Linked DNA regions of Homo sapiens: region 1 is linked to region 2. The links come from fine-mapping of genetic effects on gene expression. Tissue or cell type: monocytes after Pam3CSK4. Region 2 holds a variant in brackets; the other region holds the start of a gene. All regions are shown on one strand. Distances are from middle to middle.

Region 1 (9,342 bases), 72 kb after region 2:
CAAACAAAACCACTGGTTCCTGTGGCCGGAGTTTAGGGTGTCAAAAGGAAACTCACTCAGAGCCCCCATCCTCCTCTCAGTGCTGACTTAACTCAGACCTCACTTCCTCCAGGAAGCCCTCTCTGATCACCCCTGCTCTCTGGATGCTGAAGTCCCACAACCCTAATTATCTGTATTATTTAATTTTCCTACAACAACAATAATAACCAATATTTATATACCTTACTGCCAGACACTGTTCTAAGTGCTTTACATCAATTTCTATAACTCACTTATCTTCTTTAAAAACCTATAAAATAGGACCTATTAACATCCCTCTTTTTACAAATAAGGCTCAAACAGGTTAAGGTGTTTGCCCAAGGTCACAAGTCCAAGGATTTAACCTCAAGCAGTCTGGCTCCAGAGCCTTGCACTTGGATTGTTTTTTTTAAACACCCATTTGGCCATCCTCCACTACACCGTCCTCTCCTTGAGGACAGAAGCCACACATGGCCCCTATCACGGGGGTTACTTTCCACGGTTTCCATGGGCCGATGGGACCTTCACACCAAGGACACACGGAGACCAGGGTGGTCCTTTAAGGCCTGCCTCTAACCACATGGAAATAAAAGCAGGGAGGGATTACCGTGCATTCTTCCAAGCCAGGAGACAGCAGGGAAAATCCCTTAGCAAATATAAAGGCTGAGAAGAGAGAGTGGGAAGACAGAAGAGAATCACAACCTGAGGCTGCCAGCCTTGCAACCATGGAAAGCCTTGGTAATTAGCAGTTCCTGAAGCTCTAAGCCCCAGGTTAGTTTTGAAAACGAAAATGCCTTGGGATGTTTAGGGGCCATTCCTGACGGGCCAAGATGAGAGAGGACTCCTGTGGCTCACAAACAACGTATGGCTGGTCAGGTTACACAATCCGTCTGTTTCTGGCACCAGCTTGGGGACACACAAAAGGCCCAGGCAGAAAGGAAGCCCGGATTCCCCGCTCCTTGTTTCACAGGTGGGGAAACTGAGGTCAGGACACGTAGCATGATTGGTCCAAGACACATGTCCAAGTCAGAACCAATTCATCTCAGAACTGACACATCAGATACAAAAAGAAAAATGTGATGAAGTCAGCAAATGTAAAGTGTTAAGGAGATAATGTGAAAGTAGAGAAATCTTTTTTTTTCCTGTTTCTTGAATAATAAGAATGGTTGGCTCCAATCAATTTCCATTATTCCAGCTTCCTCCTACTCTACACGTGGACGATTTAAAACCACAGTTAACTCAAACACAATCTAGATCTGTTCTAAAATGAAACACACCATCTAGGGCAGGGGCGTGGGAGGGAGAGGTATATTTTCTTTCCCATTAATATCAAAATTGGTTTGTATTTCCTGTTTCTCTTCCAAGCAGAGGAGCATGGAGTGGCTCAGAAGGAGAAGTCAGGAGTTCCCTAGAATTTGACATTGCTCAGAGACACCAGGGTTGTCTACATGTTTAATTCAAAAACTGCCAGCTTCTAACAGAACAAATTCTTCCCCCACCCCCCACCCCCGAAACTGTGAGAGAAGAAGGGATGGGAAAGAAAGCCAATCCTGCCTTATTCTTACAGGCCTTCCTAGAAGGGTCCTTTAGCCAAATGGTTTTCAATGCTTCTGCACAACCCCCTCTCCCACATCCCCCTGCCCCCAGTACATCTCCTTTCACAGGCAGAAGGGCTCTAGTCTAAGGCTGTCTCCTCCCTGAGCTGGAACTCTGATCTCACACAGCCTCAGCTGCACCCCTAAGCCATGAGGAGCCCCAGAGGACCCCAGAGTCTCCCTCTTTCTCCCAAAGACTAGGAGCTACAAAGCCTGGCTCTAGGGTCTTTGAAAGAGCCACCCCCACACCAGCCCTTCCTGAACCAGGATTAAAAGACTTCCTAGAGCAGAGAAGGGGAGTAAATGAGGCCCCAGCAGGAGGCATGGAGATTAAAGACTTTAGAGTCTCCTAACTTCCATCCAAGGCTCTGCCCCGTCCCACCCCCTCCACCCGCTGGCCACTTTTCTCACTTCCTAGGAGAGTAGGGAAGTGGCCCCTTCCTCCCTCTCACAGAAAAAAAGCAAAAGAAAAATGCAGCATAGAATAGGGGTTTAGAACACCAGCTGGGATAGTCCCGGTTCAAAGCCCAGTACCCCCACTTAATCAGCTGTGCGATCCCAGACAAGCTACCCGGCCCCTCTGGAGCTAAACTTTCCCAATCTTAAAAACGGAGGAGGCAGGACCCAGTAGCTCACGCCTGTAATCCCTGCACTTTGGAGGCCGAGGTCGGCGGATCACTTGAGGCCAGGAGTCCAAGACCAGCATGGCCAACATGGTGAAATCCCCTCTCTGATAAAAATACAAAAATTAGTCGGCCGTGGTGGCTGGCGCGTGCCTGTAATCCCAGCTACTCGGGAGGCTGAGGCAAGAGAATTGCTTGAACCCGGGAGGCGGAGGTTGCAGTGAACCGAGATTGCGCCACTGTACTCCAGCCTGGGTGACTGAGGGAGACTCCGTCTCAAAAAAAAATTTTTTTAATTAAAAATGGGGGAAATACTCGTCCCTACTTCATAGACCGCCTGTGAAGGTTAAACCTGCTAATTAATGACACATGTAAGGTGTCTGGCACATAGTAAGTGGTCGGTTGTTATTTTACAAAGTCTGAGGCCGTGGTTTTGCACTTGGAGATGGGGAGTTGGTGGGGGTGGATGCAGTTAGGGAGCCTGGACTGCCGAGTTTTGAGTTCGAAACCCACTCTCCCCGAACTCCAGCAAAAACCTGTGCATGGGGGATTCTACCCTGGGGTTCTGTCAATCCCCGCCCCTCCTCTGAGCTTCAGGTTTTATCCTACTCCATCAACGCGCAGGGACGTTGGGCTCTGGGGCTCCTACGGTATGTCCTAGATGAGTGGTGCACCGGGCGCGTAGTTATTCCTGGGAAAAAGACGCAGGAGCGCCAGCTCCCGGCGCCGCCGGGGTCCCCAAGCCCCTGCATCGCGGATGTAACTAATTTTAAAACTATTTGAAAGGCGGGGACGGGGAAGAAAAGACAAAAGGGCAGCGCGCGCCGCGGGGAAGTGGAGTGCGGGAGAGCCCCGGTCGGAGCAGGACCGTGCGCCGGCCAGGGAGGGAGGCGACGCGACAGCTCTGGAGGAGCTCGGATCCCCCCCGCTTTCCGCGCGCCCTGCGGGGCGCCCCCGAGGCAATTCTCCACCCACGGGGACCACGGCCACAGGTTGTGGGGACCGCAGCGGGGCGAGCGGCTGGAGGGAAAGCTGTCCCCAAGCTCCCGAGCGACACTCACCGACTGCAAGAAGCGCAAGGTGCCCACGTAGTCCCTCTCGGTGCCCAAGATCTCGTTGAGGACGCAGAGGCGGAGGCGCAGCTGGCGCTCGGACTCCCGGGCGGCCGCGCACGGGCCGGGGCCGGAGCTGGGCGCCGCGGCGCCAGGGGCCCGGGGGTCCGGGTGGGCGCAGTCCCCGGCCCCGTCGCCGCCGGGCTCGCTGCCGCTGGGCGCCTCCATTCTAGCGCGGCCGCGCGGCGCCGGCTCCTTCCGTCGCGCCGAGCGGCAACTCAGGCGTCCAGGCGCCCCATCCCGGACGGGGCGCGCCGGCGGGCCGGGCTCAGCGGCGGGCCGGGCTCCCGGCGCGGCGGGCGGGACTGGGGGCCGGGCGGCTGGGCCGGGGGCGGAGGCAGCGCGCGGGGGCCGGGCGAGGGGCGGGAGGGGGCGGCCCTCGGGGCTCCCAGACGGCTGGCCCCCCGCCCCCGCGCCAGGGACCGTCTGCCAAGTGCCACGCCGCGCTCGGCCGCAGAGGCGCTCTGCGCGTGCACGGGGCCCCTGGGGACGCGGCGCGGCGCTCGGCGCCTCCGTCGGAAGCTCGGGGGTCGGGCGGGAGCCTCCGGAAGGGCCCCGCGGAGCCGGGAGTCCGAGGCCGCGCGCACGCCGAACCGAGCGTACCAACTCCGCGCCCGGACGCGTGGCGCCCCCCCAACCCGCAGTCACCGCGGGCTACGCCACTCCCACCCGGCACACGCGACACCCGCCGCGCGCAGGCTCCTGCTTGCAGGTCCGGCCGCTGCTCGGGCCAAGTAAACACCGGGCTGGGAAAGCTCGCTGCGGAGCCGCTCGGGGGCAAGCCAGCCCCGCCACGCGCGCCTCCGCGGCCCCGGGAAGTCAGGGGCGACCGCTGCCTGGGCAGTGACGGCCCCTCTCTGGGCAGTGACGGCCCCTCCCGGGAACGCCGGGCCCTCGCGGTGCCCTCGGTGCTACCACGACCTTGGGAAGGAACATGCGTGGCGCGCGCTCGCTCTCACTTTTCTCTTTCCCGTTTCCTTTCCCATCTCTCTCTTTCCTTCCTTCCTTTTCTTTCTGAACTTCTTTGCCCCCTGACCCTGCCCTTTCCACCTTTCCCAGAAGAAATTATTACCTGCTCTTGAGTTATTGATCAAGTGGCAGGTACCCTGCCTGCTCCCCCTTCCATCCACCCACCCCATGGGATAAGGCCTTGGGAAACCCAGCTTCTTGTCAGGTTGCTCTGGGCAATGTTGATCATCACCCGCCTTATCGGAAGGTATGGAGAGGGGAGGAAGTTCTGGGGCCTAGAGTCAGCTGCTCAGGTTCAAATCCTAGCTCCCCACTTGCTGGCCGGGTGGCCTTGGGCTGGTTTCCTTGCTTCAAGATCCTCAGTGTTTTCATCAGTATAACGGGAACGATCATGGTACCTAGCTCCAAGGTCCTCCCCGGGGTTCCATGGGAAGTACTTAGCACCTAGAAAGTTCTCTGTAAATGTTTGTTCTTACTATTATTGCATGTGTGAAGCCCAACACCTAGAAAGTTCTCTGTAAATGTTTGTTCTTACTATTATTGCATGTGTGAACGGCCCTCTAAGCCTGGCCCCACTCTCAAATGGCCCATACAATCCCTAATCACCCGTGTTTCCGGACCAGAGATTGTATCGTCTCTGCAGGGGATAAAGTGATCCACATAGTATCCGCCTCTAGACTGTAGTCATTTTATGGACAGAAACATTGCTTATTTATTCCTGTTCCAAAAGCCTAGGATTTTCCTCCCATTGGCCTCTCAATACTGTAAGTGCCTAAGGACACAGGGAGAGAATGGGGTGGCTTCTGCCCTCTCTGACTTCTTTCTTTGGGATCATGGGCAAGGTAGCATTTGATCTGGGCCTTGGGCTGAGTGAAGTTCCCCTGGGCAGGGAGTAAAGGACATGAGATAGGTGAGCCTGTCACGCTTGGGTAGTGGAGTCAATTGTGTCCAAAGGTAGCTGGTTTTTTATTTATATTTTTATTCCTAATAAAGGCCTCTGGAGTATCTCTGCTTTGTGACTTTAAACTGTTCACGGTACCTTTCTGAGCCTCCGTTTCCTCATCTTTAAATTAATTCTGTCTACCACGAGGGGAGAACATGGCTGGAACATAATGGACCATGGAATGAAGCGGGCTTGCATTTGTATCCCAGTCCAAATCCAACTGGCAGGGTAACCTTGGCCAAGACACGTTATTTCTCTGGGCCTCAGTCGTCTAATCTGTAAAAGGGGAGTCTTTGTGAGAGCGAATTCTATGCAATACAGACTTTCTCAACCTTGGGACTATTGACATTTGGAGTCACATAACTCTTTGTTGGGGGAGGGGCGTGTCCTGTGCATTTCAGGACATTTAGCCGCGTCCCCTACCCACTAGATGCCAGTAGCACTCCCTCCCCAATCTGAGAATCAAAAATGTCTCCAGGCTGGGCACAGTGGCTCCGGCCTCTAATCCCAGAATTTTAGGAGGTCCAAGTGGGAGGATTGTTTGATCCCAGAAGTTCAAGACCAGCCTGGGCAACATAGCAAGACCCTGTCTCTACAAAAAAATTTTAAAAATTAGCTGGGCATGGTGGCACACACCTGTAGTACCAGCTGCTGGGCTGAGGTGGGGAGCTTGCTTGAGCCCAGGAGGTCAGGGCTGCAAGTAAGCTGTGATCACACCACTGCACTCCAACCTGGACAACAGAGTAAGCCTTGCCTCAAAAATAAACAGAAAAAGTGTCTCCAGACATTGCCAGATATCCCTGGGGACAGAATTGCCCCCTGTTGAGAACCACTGATGTAAAGTACCTGACACACATAGCTGGCACAGAGTAGGTGCTCAACAAATGTTAGTTCCCTTCTCAGCCCATGACCAAGGAAGGTTAGCCTCAAGTTTACACACAAATCCCACATTTCACCCAAGAATTGGCCCACACTGCCAAAAAACATTTCCACGTTGTGGATGGGTCCCATCTCTGGCCCACCCCAATGTTTTATACATCGTTACTTCCTCAGATTCTGCTGGGATCTTTTTCCCCTTCCATCCCCATCCCCAGTGGTAATGATGACACTAAAAGATAATACAGCGTTTAGTAACATACTTAAGCTCTCTGTGCCTTGCTTTCCTCATCTGTGAACTAAGAATAATATCAGTACCTACATCATAAAGTCGTTGCAAGGTTCCTGAGTGCATACATGGAGGGTGCTTAGAGCACACAGTAGGTGCTCAATAAGTGAAGTCTTTTACAATGCGTGGATTGAGTGCTGAATCTAATAGGATGCATTTGGCTGCAAGGAGAAGAAAACTGGGCTATTGATAGCTTAAAGCATAAGGACATTATTTAGCAAGAGGTCCAGAGGCAGTTGGTTCCTGAGGCTGGTGTAGGACTTCATGATGTCATCAAGGATCATGGCACCTTTGACCCTCCTATCCTCAGCATGGTGGCTTTTCCTCCCAAGCTTTAGGGCCTCAGAGGCACAAAATGGCTGCTGAAACAGCAACATTGCCTCCTCACACACCTCCAATGAAGGAAAGAAAAGTACGAAGAAGACTCTGTCTCCTCTGTGCTTCTCTCTTTGGGGGAATAAACTTAAGCTCCCAGCAGGTCAGCACTAGAAGCCATGGTCACCCTTGAAAAGTCCCTGACCGAGGGCATAGATTGCCACCATCAACTTAGAAAAGACCTGCTTAGTCCCCTGGCACAAGGCTGCCCAGACAACTTGGAGATCTGTTGTCAAGAGAGAAGAGGAGCTAGCATGGTGGGCATCTATAAGTGTCGGCCACAAGCATCTACTACACACTGGGCATTGGGCGGGGTCCTGAGGCTGCAGCACTGAGCACCCCAACAGCTGAGGCCCTTGTGCTGCCGGCATTATTCCAGCAAGGGGGATAGGTGAGGATGAAGACAAGTTCCTCCTCTCATGCATTCAACTATTATATACTGAGGGCCTCCTATGCTCCAGGCAGGGATACAGCAGTGAACAGAACAGATAAGGTCCCTGGCTTCCTGGTGTGTCCAGTCAAGAGCAGGGAGAGAAGGACAATAAATAAACAAGGTCCTTTCAGCTTCTCTAAGGCCTGCAAGGGATGGGCCTGGGGAAGCACCATTGGTTGGTGGCACCTCCAGGACTCTGCCTCAGGTCACTACCCCAGTGTCATGATTCAGCCATCAGGATTCAGCCAGGGGCCTCAGCCTTGGCGGGATCAGTGGGGACTCCCTCTCTTCAAAACCTGGCTGCCTCCCAGCTAATCCTGGCATAGGCAACTCCCTAAACCAAACATGACTAAGCAGTCAGGCTGGAGTAGATCTCTTCCTATCCCCATTTCAACTTTGACCTCTATTCCCTTCTTCCCCATCACCCGTCCGGAATATCTAGTGGGGAGCCTATCTGTCTCATGTGTATGTCAGGGCAGGGCCTGAAACAGCCGGCAGCTGGGTAACGTTCTCAAAAAGAACAGGGAGGAAGAAGAAAAAAAAAAAATTGCAGTTCAGGGGGAAGAAAAAAAAAGTGATGATAATGATAGGGAAATTCTCTTTTGCAGGGACAATTTTAGAGTTTCCGTTGCCATGTACTTTGCAAATAGTGGGAAATACCATTTCGTTTCTGTTACATAAGTTTCACAGTTGAGGGGGAGAAGATTCTGCTGCTTGGAAACATCAGAGTTTCTTATTCCCTGACAAGCCCCTGTCAGCTTCTGCAGGCTGAGGATTTGAAGGCCCCCTTCCCAAGCTCTGTTTAAAAGGAAAACTAATTAAGTTAAAGCAAGGAAAAACAAGTGATTTTCTTTCCCATCCCAAGTTGAATGAGCCAATTGAGAAGTGAGTTACTGCACTGCCCGAGGGTGCCATCATTTCCCAAATGCAAATGAGTTCTCAAAAGTCAGACCAGCAGCCCAGAGCAGGGCTGTTCCTCATTCTGAGAACCAAGAGCAGCTGTCTGAGAAGAAGAGGGAGGCCTCTCCACCCTTGGAATTAGAGCAGCTGGACAACTCAAATCAACGCTGGACACACAGCCCAGGGTTCACTTCTTCCCACCAAAATATAATCGTCTTCCTAGTAGTTGAGCTACCCCCAGCTGCCCAAGTCAAAACGTCTCTAAGGGAAGCCTTGCTGTTGGAAGCACATTCTCCAGGGGGCTCTGGTTCAAGGTCTGATTTAAGCATAATAGGTATCCAATTAAGTCAGGGCTCCACAGCTTTGCCAAATCATACTTTTGCCAGGAGGCATTGGAGACACTGCTTTGAGGAAGCAGAAAGGAAAACATCTAGGACCCTCAGTTCCAATCCCACTCTGCCACCAACATGCACGACTTCTTCTCCAGCCTTTGGACATTGTTGTAGCACCAGAGACCAGCTTCTCAGCTTCAAATCCCAGTCCCACTGCTTCCTAATTGTGTCACTTTGTGTAAGTGACTTAACCTCTCTGGGCTTCAATATCCATATCTGTAAAATGGGGTCAGTAAGAGCTTCTACCTCACAGCGTTGTTGTGCAGGTTAAAATATTTAATAGATCCAAAGTGCATAGTATGCTGCCCGATCCTTGGATGGGTGTTTGCTATTGTAAGTGGATGAAGCCATGATGTCTGGAGCTATGACAGCCATCTTGAGACCCTGAGATAGGACACTTCTAACTAACTGAAGGTGCAAAATGACAGATGGAAAGAATCTGGATCTTTGATGTCACTGAGATCCTGAATTAACCAACCATGGAACCACCCTGCCTCTAGACTTCTTGTATTAAAAGATAATAAAATGTATAACATCCCATTTTGGACCTTATGGTCACCCTATCTTTTCTTTCTTTTTTTTTTTTTTTTGAGATGGAGTCTCATTCTGTTGCCCAGAGTGGAATGCAATGCCGCGATCTCGGCTCACTGCAACCTCAGCCTCCTGGGTTCAAGTGATTCTCCTGCCTCAGCCTCCCAAGTATCTGGGATTACAGGTGCCCGCCACCACGCCCAGCTAATTTTTGTGTTTTTAGTAGAGACAAGATTTCACCATGTTGGCCAGGCTGGTCTCAAACTCCTGATCTCAGGTGATCCAT
Region 2 (9,342 bases):
TGCAAGGTACTTGGAGCTGGTGCTCCTCATTCCCACGCATGCCTCTGCCCACTTACCAAGCTGTGTGCATCTATAAGCAAGAGAGAATATTGTTTTGCATGTTCACAACATTTTTATAAGTAGCATGCTTTCAGCAACTTGATTTTCTCACTCAACATCATGTCTTCCACATTTACCCATGTTGATATGTACACTGGGCAACATCTGCTATCCAGACCCCACCCTTACCCCACACCACATCGAGCTGCCAGCACCTGCATCTCTTGGCCTGAAGACCCCGCTCTCATGTGCAGGGCAGGCCAGAGGTGCGGAAGAAGTAAGACTGCCTGGGAGCAGCCCTCAGTGATGGCCAGCAGGACCTGGCATGAAAAGACAGATGAGGAAACTGAGGCACTCGATGGACACTATCTCCCCGAGTGCCTTGATGGATTCAGCTCCGGTGGCCCCCATGGTAACCCGCTTGATGACACACCTTTCTTGGCTGCCTTCTCCTCCCTGCCTCACTCCCCCACTCTCCTATTGATGCTTCCTGGGGTGACCTCCCAAGTATGCTACTTGCCCTTGAATCAGTCTCGGGTCATGTTCTTTGGGGAATCCACAATAAGACAGACCTCAAGTTGTTCATTTCATTGCTTACTAGTCAAAATCACAGCATGAAGTAACCACTGCCATGCTGCAGACACTTGTTTCAAACATCCTTACTGTAAACAATGGCACTCAGGTGTAAGTTCTTTCAGCTGTATACTCTCGTCGACTGGGGTATGGGTATACAAGTTCCTCTAGGTGATGCACATGTTTCCTCGAGCCCAGGCGTTCAAGTTCCTCTAAATGTATATCCAGGTCTTCTGGGGCATAAGAGAAGGACCAGAGAGACTGTTTACTCAGCTCCCAGCCTGAGTGTTTCCAGGGTCCCCAGAGCTCTAGACTGAGCAGGAAGCCACATCATAATTGATTAGTGATGTCTGCCATGGATGTGGCAGGGAGAGGGTTAGAAGGATGATGAGTTTGCCATCTCCAACAAGCTCCCACTTAATGGAGATACCAAGAGTATGAGACACTGGTCTGAGGTCAAACAGCAAACTGGTGACAAAACACAGATTAGAACCAGGTCTCCCGATGCCAGGCCAGGTCTCACCTGTCGCCCTAACCTGAGCCCAGTGGTTCTCAACTTGGGGGTGATTTTACCCCCTAGAAGACATGTGCCAATGTCTAGAGACATTTTGGGTTGTCACAACTGAGGACAGGGGTGCTCCTGGCATCTAGTGTGTAGAGGCCAGGGATGCTGCGAAACACCCTACAGTGCACAGGACAACCCCACAAAGACACAGCTGACCGCAAACAACAGTGACAAGGTCAAGAAATCCTTGCCTCAGAAAAGGCTCTAATTAAAACCTAGAAAAAAATCCAACCTCTTCCACCGCCCAAATACTGTCTAATGCGGGCTCTTCTCACCCCACTGGCTCAGCTGCAGGTACACTGGTCTCCTTTTTGTTTCTTGAACACACCAGGCCCCCAGCATCCAGGCCTTCGCACGTGCTGTTCTTTGCCTACAGAGCTTTTCCCAAGACATTCAATTGGCAGGAGAGGTCCCTCCTCTCACAGGCCACCCCTGGACCCATATAAGAGAGGATCTCACCCACTACATAGCCACCTGAACCCTGTTACCCTTCACAGACGTCTCCGCTATTGGCTGTGCTCTTATCAATTAAGTATGGATAGGTTTGATCATTCAGTATCATCTCCCTCACTAAAGTATCAGCTCCCTCAGGGCAGAAGTCAATTTCCTTGGCCGTCTACGCAGCGCCTGGGACAGAGGCTGGCACACAGCAGGTGCTCAAGAGAGACTGGTATGTGGAGAAAGGATGGGAGAGACAGGGAGAAACTGAGAACAGGCTCCAGAAAGTAAGCTGATATCGAGCTGGGAGAGGCAACTAGAATAAGAACACCTTTTTAACTCACTAACTACACCTTTAGGCCTCATTATGTGCAGGTGCTGCTCTAGGTGTTTTAATCCTCAAACTCGAGGAGGCAGGCATTGTTATTACTATGTCCATTCTACAGAAGAGCCTAAGGCCCAGCGCAGTAAAGACCTTATTTAAAGCCACACGGCTGGCAAGTGAAGGAGCTGGGCCTTAAACCCAGACAGTCTCCATCACGCGCCATCAGTGAGTGACTGTGGACAATGAACCGCATCAGCCTTTAAAACAGGTAGCAGCTGCCCTTAGGGGTGCCCCTGGGGAGCTGCCATCTGCCTGGAACCCATGGCTGCTGTTGCCTGGGGAGGATAAATCTCTCCCTGGAGATAAAAAGGACAGAAAGAGGCCTTGAAGTCACTCCCTGAGACTGATGCCGGCAACCTGATCTGCTTGGGGAGGGGGCCCGACTGCCCCCAAGGACACCTCTGCCGTGGCTGGGGTGACCTCACCAGACATATGGTGAAACTTGAGAGGGCCAGGGTATGGGCTGGGAGCAAAGGGAAGCGATGAGTGGGGGTGGGTGGGGGGAGCTCCAGAACACAGCCAAGACAAAAGGGGGTGCCCTGAGGACCCCATCCCCAACATGATCTGGGTGGCGGGGAGTCGGAAGCACAGTGTCATGGAACAGCAAGGGCCTTGGAATCTGAGCGATGATAATAAAATCGCTATAACAGCAGAAGGGGGCTTACACAGCCTGCTGCAAGCCGCCCCACACAGCCCAGAGTCTGGGGAGCTCCCCAATTGCCCAATGACCCCTTCAAATGCCCAAATCCTATGCTCCATCCATCCAAGTTCTGGGTATTTATCCTACAGGGGAAAATAAATCTCATATGTGGCATGAAGCTTTACCTTCAATATCTGATTTATAATTCCATCACTGGGGGTTTAGTTAAATAAATTACCATCCAGCTCAACAAGGAATGATCATGCTAAAAATAGTTTGCAGAAGTCTATTTAATAACACGGAAAAGGACTGTTGATGTATCCTTAACTAGGAAAAAAAATCAAGTTACAAACAAGTACATAAAATATAATCTCACTGTTGGTTAAATAAATTCTCTCTCCCTAGGCATAGAAAAATGAAGTATGGAAGGAAATACCCATACTACAAGAAACTATGTAGGAATGTGGCCAAAATTACTAGCTGTCCCCCAATATCATTCTCTCCTTTTCCTTTAGAAACAGAACTCCAGATTTAAAAATAAGGACTGTATTTCCCAGCATCCCTTGCAGCTAGGTGTGGGCATGCAACTAAGTTCAGGTCAGTACAGCATACATGGCATATTATGTACAACATCTTGGAAGTATCCTTGTGGGTTGGGGGAGGAATGGGTAGGGATTCTCTTCTGCTATTCCCTTTTCCTACTGATTGGATTGCAAATGCGATGCCTGGAAGTGAAGCAGACATCTTATACCATGAGGTAGAAGCCACGTGTTGGGGAAAACAGAGCAGCATTCAGTAGGCACTTATGTTCCTAGTGATGGTACAGCCAACATATCCGCCCTGGGTCACCTATAATTACAGAATAAGGAAATAAACTTTCATCACATTTAAGACACTGTTATTTGGGTTTTATCACAAGCCACTGAACCTAATCCTAACTGACAGAGGGGCATTCTAAAGAATTTCCATTTTCTTCTTTCTTCATTTATTTCCCTTTCCAGATTTCTACAATGAACATGCTACTTTTTAAGCAAAAGTCATTTTTAACATAAATGCATGTTTTTATTTTTCTGGATGGGAGGGGTACTAAACACACAGGCTCTCTCTCGCCCACCCCATCACCTGCCCCAATCATCAGGACCCCTGGCTTCTGTCTTCTCCTCCTTGGATATGTGTATCCCTGTGCAGGGAAGGCAGTGCCCGCCAGTGGGGAACAGAGCAGCGGCAAGGCAAATATGAGATGGAAAGATTTACCTTCTGCAGAAGAGCCTCTGAGCTGCCGACCAGCCCTCCTTCTCTGAGTCAACTCTGGAAACCTGGGGACCCCCACAAGCTGGCCTGGAGCTTCCACAGCCTGGGCCAGAACACAAGAATGTCCACCACCCAGAGCCCACACCACTGCCCAGGCTGATTAAAACCCTCTCCACTCTGTTCCCACCTAGCATTCCTTCATCACGTCCATGCCAGGGGCCAGAAACAGAGAGCCACTGGCTCAGAACCAACTGAGGCTTTCCCAAAAGACCCAAATTTTGGATTTGAAACATCCTCCCCAAGGATTCCACCGCTGACTCATTCAGTCACAGACATACTCTGAGAGGACTGGGAAGAGATAGCTTTTTTTTTTTTACAAAGTCAGACTTACTACTCCTTTACTCCCATGGCACATTTACAAAGTCCATATATGTATCTATAACTCATTTCATTATATAGTCCACAGCACAAACATATTGCTTTGAATTGTATCTTTAACAGGCTAATTTCTTCCTGAAAGCATACAAAGAACCTACAACTGAGGCCTCCTGGGAATATACCAAGGCACCATCCACCCCGGGGCCTTTGTACTTGCTGTTCCCTTTGCCTGGAAGACTCTTTCTCCAGATATCTGCAGGGCCCCACCCTCAATTCATTCCTGTATTAGTCTGTTCTCACACTGCTAATAAAGATATACCAGAGACTGGGTAATTTATAAAGAGGTTTAATTGACTCACAGTTCCACATGGCTGAGGAGGCCTCACAATCAAGGCAGAAGGCAAATGAGAAGTAAAGTTATGTCTTACATGGCGGCAGGCAAGAGAGCTTGTGTAGGGGAACTCCCCTTTATAAAACCATCAGATCTC[G/A]TGAGACTTACTCACTATCACGAGAACGGCATGGGAAAGACCCGCCCCCATGATTCAATTACCTCCCACCAGGTCCCTCCCATGACACATGGGAATTATGGGAGCTACAATTCAAGGTGAGATTTGGGTGGGGACACAGCCAAACCATATCAATTCCCCTCTAGAATCAAATGCCAGTTCTTCTGAGGCCTTCCCCGACTGCTCCATTTGAAACAGACACCCATTCCCCTGCACACTGTATCTCATCCTCCTCCATCCCCCACAGCACTGCCCTCCACCTGCACTGAGCTGTTTCTTCACTTACAGTTCCTGTGTCCCCTACAAAGTCAGTCCCAGGAGGGTGGCAGCTTGTTTGGGCAGTGTCCACCCACTGGACCTAGAACCGTGCTGGACTGGACACAGAGCAGATGCCCAGTAACAAGGGGTTCAGCAGGTGACTGATGGTCAGCATGTTCGTCCTGCATAACAATCCCACAAGGTGGGCTACTGCATCCCCTTTTTAGGAAAGAGGAAAACAGGGCATGAATCACACATTAGGCTCTGGAGTCGGCCAAGCCTCGCACCTCAGTTGCCTCATCTATAAAATCTGTGTAATGGAGCCTCACCTTGCAAGTCGCTGACATGAGGATTAAATCTGACACTGCTTGTAAATAACTTGTTGCCTCTGCCCACGGTGGGAGCCCCCGGCCCCCAGGATCCAGCCAGGATCACAGGAGGTGCCCAATAAGTCCTCAGTAAATGTCCAGTGAAGGGGTGGGCACTTTCAATTCCGTGTAGCCCCTGGACCAGCTCAGACCAGGCCCCTTCCCTGGGCACATTTCCTTGGCACCATTCCTTGGACCTATAGAAATGTTGGAGGCCTTTAAAAATACGTGCATTGGCTCCAAATACAAAAGGAAAACTGCATTGTCAAAAAGAATAAATCTTGATTTAAATGTCTACAAAATTACCAATCAACTCTGCCTGTGGCTATGTGCACAGAGAATGCAGGGAGTGTGTGCTGTGGGTGCATCTTAGCGGGTGTACCATGACAGGACCCTTGGGGTGGTTCCCCAGATGCAGCAGACCCTGAGGCAAGAAGTGGAGTACAAGTAGTTTCTTTGGGAGGTGGGAGGTGGGAGATGGTCCCTGGAAACACCAACAGGGAGGTGGAACCAAGAAGGGAAGGCAGCCCACGAAGGGTATGAGACCAAGCAAGTTACCACCATGAGGCCCCAGACAGACCGTGTGGAACGCACACCTCACAGCCACCCTCAGGGAGTGAGGAGGCCAGGGAGTCTGTACATCAGCCCTGTCTGTCACTAGTTTAAGGGCAGTGGGGGTGATCCTGGCACTCCCCATCTTCCCTGAAAGTGACAGAGCAGCTCAGAGCAGACAAAGCCATCAGGCAGAGGAGCGCAGGTGCTGGCAGTGGAGCGTCCCTCTGGTGTGCCCTGGAGTGGTTGAGGTGTCGCAATGCAGCCTCAAAAAGAAAGAGGGTGTAGGGCCCCCCCGAGCTTGGGGGGGTGAAAGACAGGGCTTTGCAGCACCGCAGCCACACAGGCCAGGCACTTCAGCAGATGTTCTCCTAATACACACCAGGACGGCCTCGCTGCCTGTTAAAACACCAAAATACTTCTGAGCTGATGGGGAAAATCTCTACATGTGCAGGGCTGAAGGTCAGAGGAGGTGGCTGCGGAACCACAGGCAGTCCCCGGTCAGACGTGGAGGCAGGTTTCACGTGGAGCAGACACAGGGAGCAAACAGCATTGCGTGTATCTGAGGATACAGCATCACGGGCAGGGTCAACAGCTGGGGCAAAGGCCCCAAGGCACATTCAGTCTTTCCAAGACAATCCTATCGAAAACGCCTATCCCTGCTCTGTTTTCCTCACAGCACCTGTCACCATGGACATTATGTGTGTTCATTATCAGTCTATTATCCATCTAGCCCACCTGAATCCAGGCTGCATCTGCGGGGAACCCATACACATTCCCCTGCGGAGGCCAAAGATATGGCCAGCATTCCACCTCCTCCTCCCATGCCCCAACTCTCAGAAGCCCTCCCTACCCTTAGAAACTCTCTCTACTCCTTGCTAGAAGGGCACTGTATCTCCTAAGCAAGCAGTATGTAAGAGTGGATGAGGCTCAAAGGCTAGAACTAGCCACCTGGTTCAAATCCTGCCCCTGCCACCTACTGCTCTGTGACCTAGGCAACTGACTCCATCTCTCTGGGCCTCATCTATAACATGGATGGGGACCATAAAACTACTGACTTCATGGGCTATTGTGAGGCTGATATGAAATACTGCAGGCAGGCCAGGCGCGGTAGCTCACGCCTATAATACCAGCACTTTGGGAGGCTGAGATGGGTGGATCACCTGAGGTCAGGAGTTCGCGACCAGCCTGACCAACATAGTGAAACCCTGTCTCTACAAAAAATACAAAAATTAGCCAGCCATGGTGGCTCACATCTGTAATCCCAGCTACTTGCGAGGCTAAGACAGGAGAATCATTTGAACCTGGGAAGCAGAGGTTACAATGAACTGAAATCGCACCACTGCACTCCAGCCTGGGTAACAGAGCAAGATTCCATCTCAAAAAAAAAAAAAAAAAAAGAAAAGAAAGAAAAAAAGAAATACTACAGGCAAAGCATTTAAATGGGCTCAAATCCCAGCTCTGCTGCTTACAAGCTCTAAGACCTGAAGTAAATTATTTATTCTCTCTGCCTCCATTTCCTCCTCTATAACGGGGGATAAAATGAGTACACAGGATTACAATGAGAATTACAGAAGCTAACACACATAACAAGCACTTGAATGGTCCCTGGTGCATAGCAGGTGCTCAAAAAACATTAGCTATTATTGGCCAGGCTCACACCTGTGAGCTCACACCTGTAATCCTAACACTGTGGGAGGCCGAGGCAGGCTGATTGCTTGAACCCAGGAGTTCGAGCAATCAATCAATACGGCAAAACCTCATCTCTACCAAAAATACAAACAAACAAACAAAATAGCCAGGTGTGGTGGCGCACACCTGTAGTCCCAGCTACTCGAGAGGCTGAGGTGAGAGCATCACTTCAGCCTAGGAGGCAGAGGTTGCAGTGAGCCAAGATCGCACCACTGCACTTCAGCCTGGATGACAAAGCAAGACCCTGCCTCAAAAAAAAAAAAGCATTGGCTATTATGATCTCCCCATCTTGAGTTTCTAGAGTGTCTGCAGGGAGTCCAAGCCCTGGTGCAGGTAGACAGAACCCACTGTGCTTCCTAAGGAAACCTGGATTTGGATCAACCACATCTGTAGGGCTTCTACATGCACCAAGCACACTCACATTTATCCCACACTATTTTTACTTATTTTTATTAGTTTTTTCCATCCTGCAAATAGCTCTATTATTATAGACTGCCTGCTTCCGAGTCTCCTGAGGTGAGATGAGAAGGGGAAGGCTTTATAAACTGCAGAGCCCCCCACATCCTCATCACCACCAGCGCACCCCTCTGCCCTGCCCCATCCTCCTTGCTGACTGCCAACCACGTGACTTCAGCAAGTCACCACACTTCTGAGTCAATTTCCTGGACCAAACAAAAAGGGGGGGAGGAGTAGTTGTTGAGGTTTAAGTGAAATGATGCAGGTGAACACTTTGTAACTACAAACACTTCCTGGAAAAAGTGGCAGAAAGGCTGAGCCAGGAGAGGGAGGCTGGACTAGGAAAGGGGCAGGAAGTTGCTTGTGATGATATTCTAGGGGGACAAGTCCTCTCCGAGTACCAACCATCCCAGCAAGTGTTAACCAGGGCCTGCCGTGCACCAGGCACCGAGCTGGGTGCTGGAGACACAGATATAAGCCATGACCCTGCCACGGAAGGACTTATGCATTCTTACATTCGCCTGTGTAGTCAGCAAATACTTACTGCACACCTATTATGTGCCAGGCACTGCGCTAAGAGCCAATGACACATCAGTGAATGAACAAATCAGACTAACTCCCCACCTTCACAAAGTAGTGGCAGAGACAGACTATACACTGATTTTAAAATAAAATGGCAGGTAGGAATGATTGCTACAAAGAAAACTAAAGCAGGGTAAGAAAACAGAGAAGGATAAGGTGGGAATGCCATTTCAAGGAGCTGTTCAGAGAAAGCCGTTCTGAGAAGATGGCATTTGAGCAGACACAGGGAGCAAACAGCATTGCGTGTATCGGAGGACACAGCATCATGGGCAGGGTCAACAGCCGGGGCAAAGGCCCCGAGGCACATTCAGTCTTTCCAGGACAATCCTATCGAAAACGTCTATCCCTGCTCTGTTTTCCTCACAGCACCTGTCACCATGGACATTATGTGTGTTTATATCAGTCTATTATCCATCTAGCCCACTTGAGTCTCACCTCCAGGAAGGCAAGGATGTTTGTCTGTCTAGGTCACTGTGGTGTCCCAGAGCCTAGGATTGGACCCAGCACACAGCAGACCCTCGAAAAGGATGTGTTTAATTAATTAGTCAATCAATCATCTAGAGTAGACTACTCCCACCCCCACCCAGATTCTAGGCCCTGGTAAAAGGTGCCCAGTTCTCACCCCACCCCGCCCCGTTCCCCACCACATCGGGAGAGGA

The links. PIP is the estimated chance that this variant, and not a neighbour inherited with it, causes the effect.
Region 1: PREX1 starts here. The variant in region 2 is fine-mapped to the expression of PREX1 in monocytes after Pam3CSK4 (Quach 2016, PIP 0.95).

Annotation. Positions count from the first base shown.
Region 1 is chr20:48,824,345-48,833,686 of GRCh38, forward strand. PREX1 (phosphatidylinositol-3,4,5-trisphosphate dependent Rac exchange factor 1) reads right to left here and starts at 3,655. Exons shown (of 40, transcript NM_020820.4): 1 at 3,298-3,655. The coding sequence starts at 3,516. RefSeq lists silencers at 3,149-3,218, 3,629-4,308.
Region 2 is chr20:48,752,216-48,761,557 of GRCh38, forward strand. The region is part of intron 1 of PREX1 (phosphatidylinositol-3,4,5-trisphosphate dependent Rac exchange factor 1); the gene reads right to left. Among named protein-coding and RNA genes, the nearest start is that of PREX1, 71 kb to the right of the region's middle. RefSeq lists enhancers at 5,811-6,805, 6,319-6,398, 9,186-9,235 and a silencer at 8,606-8,655. The variant G/A (reference allele first, on the strand shown) is at 4,758.